2 separate regions of the Homo sapiens genome follow, and region 1 is reported to be linked to region 2. The links are microRNA targets in miRTarBase. Many come from high-throughput screens and were not tested one by one. Region 2 holds a microRNA gene; the other region holds the end of a gene's coding sequence.
Evidence for each region. The annotated mature microRNA hsa-miR-762 reads GGGGCUGGGGCCGGGGCCGAGC and lies in region 2 at 2,889-2,910, shown strand. An mRNA with a match to its seed (bases 2 to 7 or 8) in the 3' UTR can be bound and repressed. Matches are read on the target gene's strand: a 7mer-m8 pairs with bases 2 to 8, a 7mer-A1 pairs with bases 2 to 7 and ends in A, and an 8mer does both.

Region 1: miRTarBase lists TMEM63C as a target of hsa-miR-762. Seed matches in the 3' UTR shown: 7mer-m8 at 2,992-2,998, 7mer-A1 at 2,044-2,050, 7mer-m8 at 1,353-1,359 and 7mer-A1 at 1,052-1,058.

What each region holds. Positions count from the first base shown.
Region 1 is chr14:77,256,559-77,260,152 of GRCh38, reverse strand. TMEM63C (transmembrane protein 63C) reads right to left here. Exons shown (of 24, transcript NM_020431.4): 24 at 658-3,594. The coding sequence ends at 3,427. It overlaps LOC124903351 (a long non-coding RNA gene), which reads right to left and starts at 334. Exons shown (of 2, transcript XR_007064276.1): 1 at 1-334.
Region 2 is chr16:30,891,063-30,895,447 of GRCh38, forward strand. It overlaps MIR762 (microRNA 762), which reads left to right and starts at 2,841; the gene lies at 2,841-2,923. BCL7C (BAF chromatin remodeling complex subunit BCL7C) reads right to left here and starts at 3,015. Exons shown (of 6, transcript NM_004765.4): 1 at 2,791-3,015; 2 at 2,150-2,228; 3 at 1,778-1,886; 4 at 1,524-1,685. The coding sequence starts at 2,882. MIR762HG (MIR762 host gene) reads left to right here. Exons shown (of 3, transcript NR_110942.1): 3 at 3,486-4,158. RefSeq lists enhancers at 1,972-2,604, 2,143-2,472, 4,216-4,385 and a silencer at 2,853-3,332.

The sequences.
Region 1 (3,594 bases), not on the chromosome of region 2:
AGCCACCCTGAGACTGTCATCCTCTGTCCCCATAGGGAGCACTGCGGGAGGAAGTCTCCCCCTACTCAACACACCCACAAGATTCCCATCTTCTGCCCTCAAATCTGCTCTGCTCAGTCACGAAGCAGAACAGTCCGCTTCATGTCCTCCCAGCCCTACTGTCTGGATGAGGTGACCAGCCTGGGTCATGCAGCTGCTGGAGGAAGGGACAGAACCAGTCTCCTGACCCTGAGATGTGTCCGCCAGGGCAGGGAACTGTTGTCTCCTTGCCACAGTTATAACAGCCTTTGCTAACGGGTGTTTCTTATCCCACCTGGCTGCCCCACACACTTCCCTCGTGCCAACCTCTCCTCCACCCAACCTCTCCTCCACCTCCCCCATCCCCCAAGTCCCCCACCCTCATCCTCTTGCAGACCTGAGCCCTGTCTGCCGCTCTTCCTGGGGCCTCACCTGAAATCTGTGTGTTTTGAAGTCTGGCCACTAGCCTAGCCCAGTGGCCTGCTCATGGGGCTCAGCACTCACCAGAGACTTCTGCTGCTCCTCGGGGCTGCCCTGCTGGCTTCCTGGGTAGCTCAAGGACCAGAAAGTTCTCTCCACTGCACAGCGGAGCAAGGCCAGGCTGGCCCAGATGCACAGGCAGAGAGGCAGGGGCCAGGAGAGGTTGGGAGGACTTGTTTATTCAAGGCACGGTCATAGCATTAACAAGAAGGTTCAGCATTCTGGCACATTCCTTTTGTGGTGGTGGCCAAGGTTAGCCCACACCCCCTCCCCCCCGACCGGGGGCCCCAGAGGACGCAACGCTGCTGATAGGCACTTTGCTTCCAGGGGCAGTGGAGGGTCAGGCAGGTGGGCATGGGGCCACTGGAGGCCTGAGGAGGGCCCCTCCTGGAGGCTCTAGGCAATACCGGTTCCTGGGCGGCAGCTCCTTCCAGAAAGGATTAAGTCAGGAGGTGATTTGGTGGATGGAGTGGGGTGGGGCGGCTGGGAAGTGGCTGGCAGAGGAGTGGGATGGCAGTAGGTGGGGGGAGGGGGGCAATGGGTGAGGCAGGTGTGGGCTGAGGCAGGAGGTGCCTGAGAGGGCCTGGATGTGGTGGCGGGGGGAGGCTAAAAGATGCCCCCTGCTCCACCATCCTGTAGTGACCATGGGAGGTCCAGATGGAGCCAACTGCCATGAGGCTTTGCTGGTTCCCCTAAGAGTGGACTATGGAACCTTCTCCACATGCTCACCACCTTCTCTCAGAGCCAGGCTACACTGGACCCAGGTTCAGAGGGAGAAGCCCCCAGTCATCCCGCCACATTGTCTGCCAGGACTTTTCCCATATGTGGCTTCCACAGTCCGGCAGGGGCTGCAGGGGCTGGGGGCAGGGGCCAGGGAGCTGTGTCCAGCAAAGAAGAGACCCCAGGCCAGCTTCTGGTGTGACCCCCCACACCCCATACACCAAATACACATGATGGGGTCGGGCAGGGCCTGGAGCTGGCCACCTCCCCATCATGTGCCAAGCTCCTGCTGGGCCTGACCGCTATGCTGTAACAGCGTACTTTCCCCTTGTTGGTTGGTGAAATTCCAGTGGGGAGGGGGCCTGTGGGACCTGGGTGTGTAGGGGCCAGGCTAGGACCATTTCCCCTTTATTCCTAGCTGGACAAGGAATGGGAAAGACAGCCTCTCTCCAGCCAACCCAAGCTCTCTGGAAAGACACCCTCATGCCAAAATGTGGGCCATGCCCTGGGGGTATAGCAGTTTCTGCCCATTGAGCACAATTTCTCACCTGCGGTGAAGCTTGGAGCTTCTGGGGCTAGGATGGGGCAAAGGTGGGGCAGGGACAAGGTCTAGGTGATCTGAGTTCAGGGCAGCCATGTGCCTGGGGCCTGGTGCAGGTGCTCAGGTGAGGTGAGCCGGGGGCCGGCCTTCAGTAGGTTGGTGGCAGGGACCCAGACCTTTGGGGGAGGGGGCTGAAGAGGGCCCTGGAGCACACAGACCCCATTCAGCTTGGCTTGTTCTGGTTCATTGAGGCCCCCACTGGCCCTTCTCATGTCCTCCCTGGCTGGGCTGCACGGTGGTCCTGATGAGAGCCCATCCCAGAGGCAGAAGCCGGTTCCCCCCGGCTGTGGCAAAGGTGCTGAGTGTCACCATCACTGTTCGGAATTCAGCTCCCCCAGGTCTCTGGTAGTGGCAGCCCTGGGAGGACAGCCTTGCTTCTCCAGAAAGGGCTTCTCCCTGGAGCACGTGGCCTTCCCCTCCACCACACCCCTGGCAGGCCTGGGGCGACATCACGGTTGAAGCATCTGCAATGTCTGGACCAGGCCCACACTGGAGGCCGCTTGGGTGGTCTTCAAGGCAGGGTGCAGGGGCAGCCCCGAGAAGGGAGGAAGGGTCCTACTTGGGACGCAGGTGATGGTCAGTCCTTAAGTTTGAAGCATGGGGTTCTTACCCTAACGTACTGCCCATCTTGGCCAAGCTGGGGGCCCAGGCACTCAGTTGGGTAGGAGGCAGGAGACGCTTTTAAGTGGCCACATCTTTGGCTTCGGGGGTCTTCTCTTTAGGCCCTGGGGCTTGGGGAGGTATAGCTGGTTTCCCACCACACAGAGTTTTGGGGAGAAGACCCCCCTTCCATGAATTCGGCTTCTGTCGTCTCACCCCACTTTGTGTTACCCAGCAAGGACTAACCAAGGTTTCCTTCTGAAAAATGCACACGAGTCTCATTTGATGAGCCCTGAGTGATCACGCTCTAGCTACCCTTGTAAGAATAGAAAGAAGGGCCTCTGCCCTGCTGCTCCTGGGGACATCTGATGAGGGCAGAGGAGCAGGAAGGGGCTGAGTTACCTCTTCTCAGGTCTACGCTTTCAGTTGGCTCTTGCTCTGGTGGGTGCAGAAACTTTCTCTTTACAGATCCCCATGCAGGGAACCCTGTGATGAGGTGGTCCTCCGTGTCCTGTCAATGTGCCCCGTGCACATACCTTTGCCTCCTCAGACTGCAGGGGAGGAATGGGCCGGGGCTGGGAGGAGGAGCAGCAGCAGAAGCTCCTTGGAAGGGCAGCTGATGCAGAGTGGTGATGACCCCACAGAGCCTTCGGCAGCCTCCTTCTGTCTCCTCCCTTAGGAACACCTTCTCCATCTTGGTCCCAGGAAGGGACCCCAGCGTTCAGTCTCTGTGCCGGGGCTCCAGCCACCTCTCTCAAGACATGTGCTTGCCTGTATCCTCCCATCCCTTCCCAGGCTCCTTCAGCACTGCCGAGCACCCCCAGTTCCAGCCGGGCAGCAGGTCAGGACCCCCGTATGGCCCATGGCTGGGGTGGTGGATGTCTCCACTGTGGGCTTCTCAAAGTCTGCAGGAGGTAGTGGGGAGGTCCAGGCCACCCTCCTGCCTCCCCTTGCCAGGCCCTCCCCTGACCCCTCAACAAGTCGCCAGTGGAGGCCTCAGGTCCCGGTCAGTGGTACTGGTTCTGGCCCTCCAGTTCCAGCCCTTCCTGGAACTGGGCCGAGTCTAGCTCCCTCGCAAAGCCCCTCAGACCACTCTCTTCTTCTCCCTCTTCCGGCTGGTTGTTCATGGTGCCATAGGTGTGCCTGGCTGGGGAGGAGGCGGGGGTCAGATTCAA
Region 2 (4,385 bases):
GGAGGCTGAGGCAGAAGAATCGCTTGAACCTGGGAGGCAGAGTTTGCAGTGAGCCAAGATCGTACCACTGCTCTCCAGCCTGGGCAACAGAGCAAGACTTCATCTCAAAAAAAAAAAAAAAAAAGGCTGGGCGTGGTGGCTCGTAATCCCAGCACTTTGGGAGGCCAAGGCGGGCAGATCACCTGAGGTCAGGCGTTTGAGACCAGCCTGGCCAACATGGCGAAACCCCAACTCTACTAAAAATACAAAACCAGCCGAGCATGGTGGTTCATGCCTATATTCCCAGCTACCCAGGAGGCTGAGGCAGGAGAATTGCCTGAACCCAGGAGGTGAAGGTTGCAGTGAGCCAAGATTGTGCCGTCGCACTCCAGCCTTGGCAAGAGCGAAACTCTCTCAAAGAAAAGAAAAAGAGAAAAGAAAAAAACCCAACCACGTAAAGTGTTTACCAGGGCACCTAGCACACAGTAAGAGCTCAATAAATACTAGCTGTTGTTATTCCTATTATTGTTAATCACCCCTATGACTATCACTATTATTTATTCACTCAACAGATATTTACTGAGCACCTACTATGTGTCCCATATTATTCTGAGGATACAGTAGTGAACAAGATCACATAGGGCCAGGCACAGTGACTCACGCCTATAATCCCAGCACCTTGGGAGGCTGAGACAGGAGGATCATTTCAGGCCACGAGTTCAAAACCAACCTTGGCAACATAGCGAGACCCTACCTCTACAAAAAATTTAAGAATTGGCTGGGCATGGTGGCACACACCTGAGTCCCAGCTATTTGGGAGGCTGGGGCCAGAGGATCCCTTGAGCCCAGGAGTTTGAGGCTGCAGTGAGCTATGATTGCACCAGAGTACTCCAGCGTGGGTGACAGAGACCTTGTCTCTAAAAAAAAGGGGGGGGAGGGCCGGGTGTGGGTGTGATGGCTCACACCCGTAATCCCAGCACTTTGGGAGGCTGAAGGTGGAGGACTGCTTGAGCAAGTGAGTTTGAGACCAGCCTGGGCAACATGGTGAAACCTTATCTCTACAAAAAATACAAAAATTAGCCAGGTGTGGTGGCATATGCCTGTGGTCCCAGCTACTTGGGAGGCTGAGGCGGGAGGATCGCTTGAGCCCAGGAAGTTCAAGGCTGCAGTGAGCTATGATCACACCACTATACTACTCCAGCCTGGGTGACAGAGCGAGACCCTTTCTCAAAAAAAAAAAAAAAAAAAAAAAAAAAAAAGGATCAATATGGGCCCAACATTCAGGAAACTGACATGAGAGTGAGGAGAAAGATAAACTAGTAAAAAATTAATTTACATGAAAATCTCAGACAGTGATATGTCTGTATAGATTCTAAGAGACCAGAGGAATGAGACTGTAGCTACAGGGAGATTCTGCAGGAGTCGGAAGGCGCCTTGAGGAGGGTGCACAAGACGGGGAGCAGGTATAGGGATGAGCTGGTAGGTTAGACTCTGGAGAAGACAGGACTTAGAGGAGAGAGCTCCTGGGAGGTACCTGGTCCTACCTCTCTCTTGGCCCAGCCGTGGGGGCTGAGCCTCCTCAGGGACCCCTTCTGGGGGTCCGGCAGGTGACACAGGGCGGCTGGGCTGGGGGGTGCCCCCAGGACTGGGCTCTGTGCCCTTTTGCAGGGAACCTTCCGAATGGAAACTCTGGTTGCTGTTCTCATCTGCGGGAGCAAGAGCCGAGATGGTTGGCCTGAGATCCCTAGTACACTCCTTCAGTCCCCACAGCCCCCCGCGTTTCAGGATCCCTACCTACCATTAAGATCCAGCAGGATGAGAGGGCCACCCCCTCGGGGACTGGCGCCCCTGCCCCGACGTTCCCGGCCACGGGATCTCTCTGCCCCGCCACCTGCCCGCCTTCGCTCCTGGGGGTTAGAGGATTAGGGTCAGAGCTCTTGGAAAGCCCCACCATACACCTAAGGAAACTGAGGCACTGAGAAGCAAAAGGGCTCAAACTCAGGGGGTGTGGAGCAGAAAAGAGGGCAAAAGGGGAGGAGCTGCTAATGATGGTTCCCGTCTGTCCTGCTGCATCTGAGGTCTCGGGGAGCTGGAGGTAGAGGTCAGCGTGGGGAGGAACTTGCCTGAGGTTGCACAGATGCAGGGCCTTGTGGGAATGGGGGTTGCTCACCTCCTCCTGGGGATCCACCACTGGCACCCACTTGAAGATACGAAGGGAAGTGTCGCCCACAGTCACCCATCGCTTCTCCCTGTGGGAGGGTGGGGGGCTGGGTCAGAGAGGCCTGAGGGGAGACCCACCCCCCTAGGAGCTGGACACATCTGGGGGTACCTGCAGAGGTTGAGGAGGCACAGGAGGATAGCAACAGTTTTGCTAATGGGGCATAGTTACATGGAGGAAGAGAGTCCTGCAAACCCCAGGGCATAGGCGGTGGGTGCCTCTAGAGAGAGGATATGATTTGGGGCCCTGGCTCTGCGGACCCCTGGGGCACACATGGGGGGCGTGGCTATGGGCCTGGCCCGGGATCAGAGCCCTGCAGATCCTGGGGCGCACCTGCAGGAGGGGTGTCAAAGCTTTAGGGGGCGGGGCACAAGAGGGGGCTCCCGCTCTGGGAGGACACGGCTGGGGATCACGCTTTGTAGACCCCCAGGAGTAGCCAGGCGAACGGGGACAGAGCCCTGTGGATCCAGGGCAAAGCTAGTGGGTGGAGATACACCGAACACCCGGGGCCCAGAGCTGGCGAGGGCAGCGTAGACGCCTTTGGTGCTGGTGGTCCCGCTGTGTCCCGTCCCTGGCCCCCGAGCAGCGCTCACCATCTCCGGACCTTCTCGATGGTCGCCATCACCTTCTTGATGTCATCCTTGGCCCGGCTCCGGGTCTCGGCCCGTACAGTCCGGCCGGCCATGCTGGCGGGGCTGGGGCCGGGGCCGAGCCCGCGGCGGGGCCGCCTCCCGTCCGGCGGGCTCAGGCTCCGCGCCAGGCCCGGGCGCCGCGCTCTCGGCCTGCCGTCCCCCCTGGAGTTGGCCGCGCCCTCTCTCGTCCCCAACGCCTCCGCAAGTCCCCGCCCCGTTTCCTGCCGCCGCGCCCCGCCCCGGCCTGTCCCCGGAGCGGCCCGGTGGCGCGGGCGGCCAGAGCCCAGGCCTGGAAGCCCGGCCGGCCCCGCCCCGACCCGGGCCCGCCCCCTTGGAGCGCCTGGACGCTCAGCGCCCCCTGCCCGCCGCCGAGAGCGGGAGTTGGGGACGGACGCGCGAGTTGGGGACGGAGAGCGGGAGTTGCGACCGGACGCGCGAGGCAGGGCCGAGGCCGTGTGTTCAGACCACGTGGGCGCGGGGTGCGCGACAGGGTCTGTGTCCTGCGCTGCGTGAGCCGCGGTGGGTGTCCGCGAAACGCTGTGTGTGGAGTGCGTGCGTGTGTCCGCCCTCGCCAGGCTGTTGGTCTACACCGCCCAACTTACTCAGTCATCCATTCATTCAACAGTCTTGTTAACTGAGTGCCAATTACGCTCCAGGCGCTGCGAATACGAGTGGGTCTCCACCACCAGAATGGCTAAAGTGAAAAAGACCGCACCGTGTGGAGGCGAGAAAGTAGAGCGACTGGACCTCTCTTGTATTTCTGGGGGAGTGTAAATTGGTAGAGACATTTTGGAAAACTGGCAGTTTTCTAATGAAGCCGAACATATGCCACCTCTGTGATCCAGCAGTTCCACTCCTAGGCTGTCAACACCCAGCAGAAATGTGTAGGTGTGAGCATCAAGAGGGTGCATGGGAATGTTCAGAGCCCTTTCATAACAGCCCCAAACTGGAAATAACCCATCAACAGAATGGAAAATGAATGATGCCCTACTCACTACCATGCACATAGACACAGCAACGGGATTGACATGCCCGGCTACACACAGCAACATAGACAAGTCGCATGATGAAATCTTGAGTGACAGAAGCCAAATGCAACAGTACATACTAGATGGTTCCAGGTGTATTACGTTCAGAACCAGACAAAACTAATTTATAGTGCACCAAAGTCAAGATAGTGATCGCCCTTAGGGTTGGGAGGGGACGAGGGGAGAGCTTCTGGGAGCTGATCCAGTTCTGTTGTGTAATCTGGTGCTGGTTCCCTGGGCATATGTATTCTGTGAAAATCCATCACATGACTTAAATAAAATGTACATTACTTAAATAAAATGAGTGTGTCTTTGTTGACTTTATTTGAGGCTGGCTTGTCAGCAGATAAGACCATGTCAAAATTTGTGCTGCTGTTGTGTGTGTGTGTGTGTTTCAAGGTGTGGCTGTTGTGTCTGTGAATTTGGGCGTGACCATGTCCAGAGGTTAAGGGTATAAGGGGTTAGGAGCATGGTTAAGACAGCATTTTTTTGAGCCAAGCTGCTTAGGTAAAATCCCAGTTGTGCCAC